Linked DNA regions of Homo sapiens: region 2 is linked to region 1. The links come from fine-mapping of genetic effects on plasma protein levels. A gene starts in region 1. The other region holds a variant in brackets. All regions are shown on one strand. Distances are between the middles of the regions.

What was found. A credible set is the group of variants that fine-mapping cannot tell apart. PIP is the chance, under the fine-mapping model, that this variant and not a neighbour inherited with it causes the effect. Protein levels are from antibody-based Olink assays in UK Biobank. Linkage for the fine-mapping came from a reference panel and not from the study's own genotypes, which makes the PIPs less certain.
Region 2: its variant is the best candidate, but not a certain one, in a credible set for the plasma level of the PTN protein (UK Biobank, PIP 0.66).

What each region holds. Positions count from the first base shown.
Region 1 is chr7:137,342,594-137,345,517 of GRCh38, forward strand. PTN (pleiotrophin) reads right to left here and starts at 1,140. Exons shown (of 5, transcript NM_002825.7): 1 at 846-1,140. RefSeq lists promoters at 934-2,924, 934-1,679 and a cis regulatory region at 1,683-1,692.
Region 2 is chr7:137,367,593-137,370,516 of GRCh38, forward strand. No RefSeq gene overlaps it. Among named protein-coding and RNA genes, the nearest start is that of PTN, 25 kb to the left of the region's middle. The variant A/G (reference allele first, on the strand shown) is at 1,320.

The DNA of each region.
Region 1 (2,924 bases):
GGAGAGAGGAGGTTTCACTTTCCATCTATTAAGAAAGGAGTTGAATACATTCCTCTCAAAAAATGTTTTCTTAACTTATTAGAAACAACAACTCAGAAACTCTAAATATCTAGTAAATTAGTAACAAATATATCCTAAATTTATGTGGGTCAAATTAAAAGTTTAAGGGTCTATGTACTGGGCAGTTCTTTAAATTTGCATTCAAATGAGAGATGGGACTCCAGGTGTGTCTTCTAAACTTTGGACCTAACCATTTCTGGAACCATTCCTGGGCTGTCAGGTGGGAAGACGGGTGCCAGTAGTTCCGTGAGAGACGTTTCATGTCAGCTAGCACTGGGAGGAACAAGCCCCCACAGCTTACCTAGAAATGCCAGCTAAGAGTCATGGGCTGACAGGCTCTGGGGCAATCAGAGAATCAGAGAGAGGCTGGGAAAATGAGAGCTGCTTGTTCAGGCTGCCTTACTTTCTTTGCACCTACCCAGCCAGAGACACACCTACTAAAGCTCCAGGTTTTACAAAAAGCAAAGATGCACTCTCCAGCCCACCCTGTCTTGCTCTCCAGCTGGTAGCTGGAACACGGTCCAAATACATGCTTAACATCACAAAAACTTCTTTCCTTTCACTTACCTAAGCACACCCGAACTAACCTAACCTGAAACCCCAAAAATATGCCTCCCTTGGCCTCTGGAGCAAGTCAGTTTTGAAAGCAGTCCTATCAGCAAAGACACCAGGCAGCCTCTCTCACCCCTACCACCATCATCTGCTGGCACCCAGAAAAGTGGCACAGGGTGAAGGCAAACTCGATCGAAGAGCCCTCCGAGAAATCGTACGTTCCTCTCACTTACTTTGAGTTGGAAACGTCCTCTCTGGCGCTCAGTCTGCCTTTGTTGCAAGGGGCGAGGTTGCTACCGCTGAGTCCAGGTACCCGGCTCGCTGCAGCTCCTGCTTGGGCCGCTGCTGCTCTCCCCGCCTTCTGGACGGATGACTCACTGGTCTCTTTCTTCCCCTCTCTCCACTTTGGATTTTCCTCTGCTCTGGGGCTCTCTTGGCGGGATTTTTGGACTGGAAGGCGGGGAACCTGATCCTGCCTTTGACTCAATTACGCCCTGACAGGGAGGGAACGGAAGGGAAATGGAGAATGGGAGGGATGAGAGGAGCGGGCCAGGAGGACGAAGGCTGGGCGAGGGAGGGAGAGCGCTTTGCACTCGAGAGCTGATTGGGAAGCTTATTAAAAGCAGAATACTCCAGGGGCAGTCTCTCCCTGCGGAGCAAGAAAACGGATTTGAACCAAGAGGCCATGAGATGGTACCTTGTTTTGTTTTTAGCAGAGACGAAACACAACATTTCTTTTCCAAACTCCACCCATGATCTATTCTTCAGATGAGTGCAAAGCCACTTTGCCAAATAGGATATTTTAAATGGACAATTGATGGCATTTTAGGTTACATTTTTGGCCCCCCACAATCCTTTAATGATATTCAGAATGGAAAAGCACTCTCTTCAAACCAGCCTCTTCTTCCACCCACGAAAGCCCTCTCTAAACACAGAGACAGTAAGGTGTCAGTCACATCTCACCTGCAAAGCACAAAATGTACAAAGTACTTTTTCTCAATTGTCACAAAGAGTGACAGACGTCTCAAAGTTCCCAATTAAGTGCTACTTACCTTTAGGGAGAGCTCTTTCCTTTTTTGGTTTCCTTGGTGCCTTTAGCAACCTATTTAGTAACATGCCTTTGACACCCAAGAATTTAGAGGATTCGTCAAAGTAGCTCAAACTCTGAGGTTTGTAAAACTTGGAGGCTGGGCTTTGCGTCTCTGGAATTGTCATTTCATTCAATACAGGAAAGACGCTAAGGCAATGCATAGGTAAATATTTATGATAAAGATGAGATAAAAGTATTGTGTAAAAGGATTAAGATGTATTATACAAATTCACCCAAACATTTTCGAAATGTAAATTTCGAGATTTTCTGCCACTTATCAGCTTTTCCTGCTCCGTGGCTAGCTCCTTTTACCTACTTTTACCTTTACTGGTCAGCTTATCATTTGATGGCGTCCTTCCCAAATTGGTTGTAAAATAGACCACATTTTTCATAATTCTGAGGTTACATCCCTTCATTTCAATTTGACAAATATTTATTAAGCAATTTGTTTACTTAGAACTATCCTTAAATCCCCAAATTAGAAGCATTGTCTTGTGGCAAGTAGTTTTTAGGGACTTGGGGCTCTTCTATTGACAGCTACCTGTAGAAATGTCCCTTGGAGAAGTTGACTGGAGCCAGACGTGGCTCTACAAACTCAATCAAGCAGTCAATCAAGCTTTTCAAAAGGAAAGGCATCAGAGATGCACTTACACACCTACAATTTATCCCCCTTCCCAAACTCTTCATATACATACCACATACAATTCTCAAATGAAATAACTAAATAAGGAAGCTGTGTTCCTTTCTCCTACACACAGGCTTCAGGTTACCTGTTTTCCTTTTGTGATTCCACTTCTGTGTGAAGCAAGCAGTGCTTGTTTTAATCAGATTTCACCTGTATAAAGTGTGGAGAAACGCACATTAGCATTTTTTTTTGGCATTTTTCCCAGTCCCTTTACCAAAAAAGATATCTCAGCATTCTATTAACACTCCATAGGGGCAAAGTTTCTAAGGCATTGAACAAAGAGCTATCCATTTTCTTTCTGTTCTTCAGCTTTATGTTAACATATACAAATGTAACATACAGCTAGCTACCAGTTAGGTGAACAATGCTGGCTTGATTGAGGTGTTCTCTATAGGGCTGATAAAGTAAGCATGAGATTCCCATGATTTCTACTCAATTACATATGTTACACCAAAAATATCACCCTTTATTCAGATGGGTATATACTAAAATTGTATACATCAGTGATTATCAATTGGGAGCAGTTTTGCCCTCCAG
Region 2 (2,924 bases), 25 kb after region 1:
TTCTGATCAGGGATCCCCAAGCCCTGGGCCATAGATGGCCCGGGTACTGGTCCATGGCCTGTTAGGAATCAGGCCGCAGAGCAGGAGGTGAGCAGCTAGCGAGATTACTGCCTGAGCTCTGCCTCCTGTAAGATCAGTGGTGGCATTCCATTCTCATAGGAATGCAAACCCTTTTTTGAGCTGCACATGCAAGGGATCTAGGTTGTGCACTCCTTATGAGAATCTAATGCCTGATGATCTGAGGTGGAGCAGTTTTATCCCAAAACCATCCCCTGCAGCTTGCCAGTCCATGGAAAAATTGTTCTCCACGGCACCAGTCTCTGGTGCCCAAGCAGTTAGGGATCACTGTTTTAGATAACAACGTTTTTATTTCTTTGGCTCAATAAGGTAAAATTAGTAGGTGAGAAATATACTATTTCAAGCACTTTTTCATCATAATGTTTAGAAGAGGAACTTACTAAGAGCACAAGATGTATTCCCAATAAGTCATATCAATGTCTCATTCAGCCACATGTTTTATCTCTGATAATGGCACGTGAGCTGTGTGTGATGAAATGTTATTAAAGATGGGATGTATGTTTTAAAAGCTTCATTTTTCCTGAACAGCCAATGCTATAGCTCTTGTTGATGAATTTTTAAAACCCCAATTGTACTAATTCACATTTCTTTTGGACTTCAAGGTTGGTGTATTAGTCATTTCTCATGCTGTTAATAAAGACATACTTGAGACTGGATAATTTATAATGAGGTTTAATTGACTCACAGTTCAGCATGGCTGGGGAGGCCTCAGGAAGCTTTACAATCATGCTGGAAGGCAAAGGGAAGAAAGGCAACTTCTTCACTAGGTGGCAGGAAGGAGACCTGCTGAGCAAAAGGGGAAAAGCCCCTTTTAAAACCATCAGATCTCATGAGAACTCACTCACTATCACAAGAAAAGCATTGGGGTAACTGCCCCCATGATTCTCTTACCTCACACCAGGTCCCTCCCACGACATGTGGGGATTATGAGAACTACAATCCAAGGTGAGATTAGGATGGAGACACAGCCAAATCATATCAATTGAGGAGATTTAGTGAACCACATGTAATGTCAACCTGTGGACTGCATCATTCTAGAAGTCTCCACAATAGACACCACAATTTCCAACATAAGATTTATCAGTAATAAAGGTAATATTTTGGGTTCTTATTTGCTTTGTCTTGTTTTATTTTTATTCATTTATTCATTCATTCATTTTTAATTTCTCAACTGGCAGAGAAATTGAGCAGTAAGGTGGTGGGTTATTTACTTGGTCCTTCTTGAACACCATTAATAAACA[A/G]CTTACAAACATAATTCCTTCTCTTTCACACCATAACTATTTGACTTTATACAAGCTACTTAAATTTTAAGTCTTGGTGTCTTCATCTATAGAGTGGAGTTTTTGATAGCTTCTTACCATGGAAGGTCACTGTGAAGATTAATAATGAGAAAATACGTGTAATATATAGTTAGTGCACATCACAAAATATAAAAGACACTCAATAAGTGGTCATCTTTTTCTGTTCTTTGTATCGCAAGTTGAATTTTAAATGTCATACCATTAGTATAAACAGGACGGTGTCATTATCTGAGAATAATTGGAACCTATAAAATATCTGCATATATAAGGGGCCAAAATTTCATTGTAAGTTGAGCATTTCTATATTGAGGAACAAAACTAAAATATTTTATATTATTTATCAAATTTAGATTTTAACTACAAATAAACATTGATTATTAACACAAAGAATAAATCAAGCATTATTTTTTACATTTGCATTTCTGTTTATCCAACAAAATTATATGAGACATTATGCCCCATTTCACATTTTAATTCTGCAGCATGGTTATATTTCTAATTATATATAACTCATTAATTTTTCAAAATTTCCTCAATTCTTTGCTATTCAGATTATTCTCATATCCAGAGACTACCCATCATTGTCCTCTATCTTTTTAAAAGTCCATGATTTGTCTCTATAGCTGACTTTTCTTGTATTATATTGGGTTGTTAGGGCATTAGAGCATTCAAAAAATTAGCTAGAGACTGATCAATAAGATCTTGATTGGTTGAGGATGGGTATTTGTGCCAGGAATAGAAGGCTCTTTGAAAGGAAACTAATTTTATTAGCCATATGCTCAAAAGTGAATGGTGCTAGGTCATGGCAACTTTTGATTCTTGATTTTATGCATCTTTTCAACTACAGGGATTTGGATAATGATGACTTCAGTAACTAGAATATTACTGGTTAGCTACGTTAATAGTAAATTTGATAAAATATGTCATAAACTGTTTTTTTAACCTTAAAGCTATATCACAAGAAAGGACATAGAATATAAAATAACTTTTAGTACTTTAACCTCAAATTTGTGATTTTTTTGACCCCCCACAGTTAGAGGTTTTTCAGGCTGACATACCTGGGATTTAGAAACTCACAAATAACCCCTGTGGTCCCTCCTTCCCAAGAGTCTAAAGTAGCTCTCCATTAGGAGCCTGAAACTCCTTCAAGTCATTAAGTGATTGATTTTCTATCAAAACAGAATGAAGGAGTGAGGAAGGAAGGAAGATAAACAGGGAAGAAAGGAGGGTAGAGGAGAGAGAAAGATAAAGGGAGAAGAAAAAACATAAGCTGGAATCTAAGTGCTCTGAAAAAAATGAGACTGCAGCTCCCTAAGTCATCATCAAGACTTGAAGCAGAACCCTTGAATCAGAGAATATTCAGATGAAATACTCTGTTTTAGGGAGAAGCTACTGATACAGTTGTTGCTTCGATGAGGAGAGAAAGTAGATGGAGCCATTATCCTACTGATATATTTTCAGTCCTTCCCCTCACCCTTTTCCTCTCAAAGACCTTATTATCAGCATATACTATATGCTCTGATGTGGATATAATCATGGATCTGA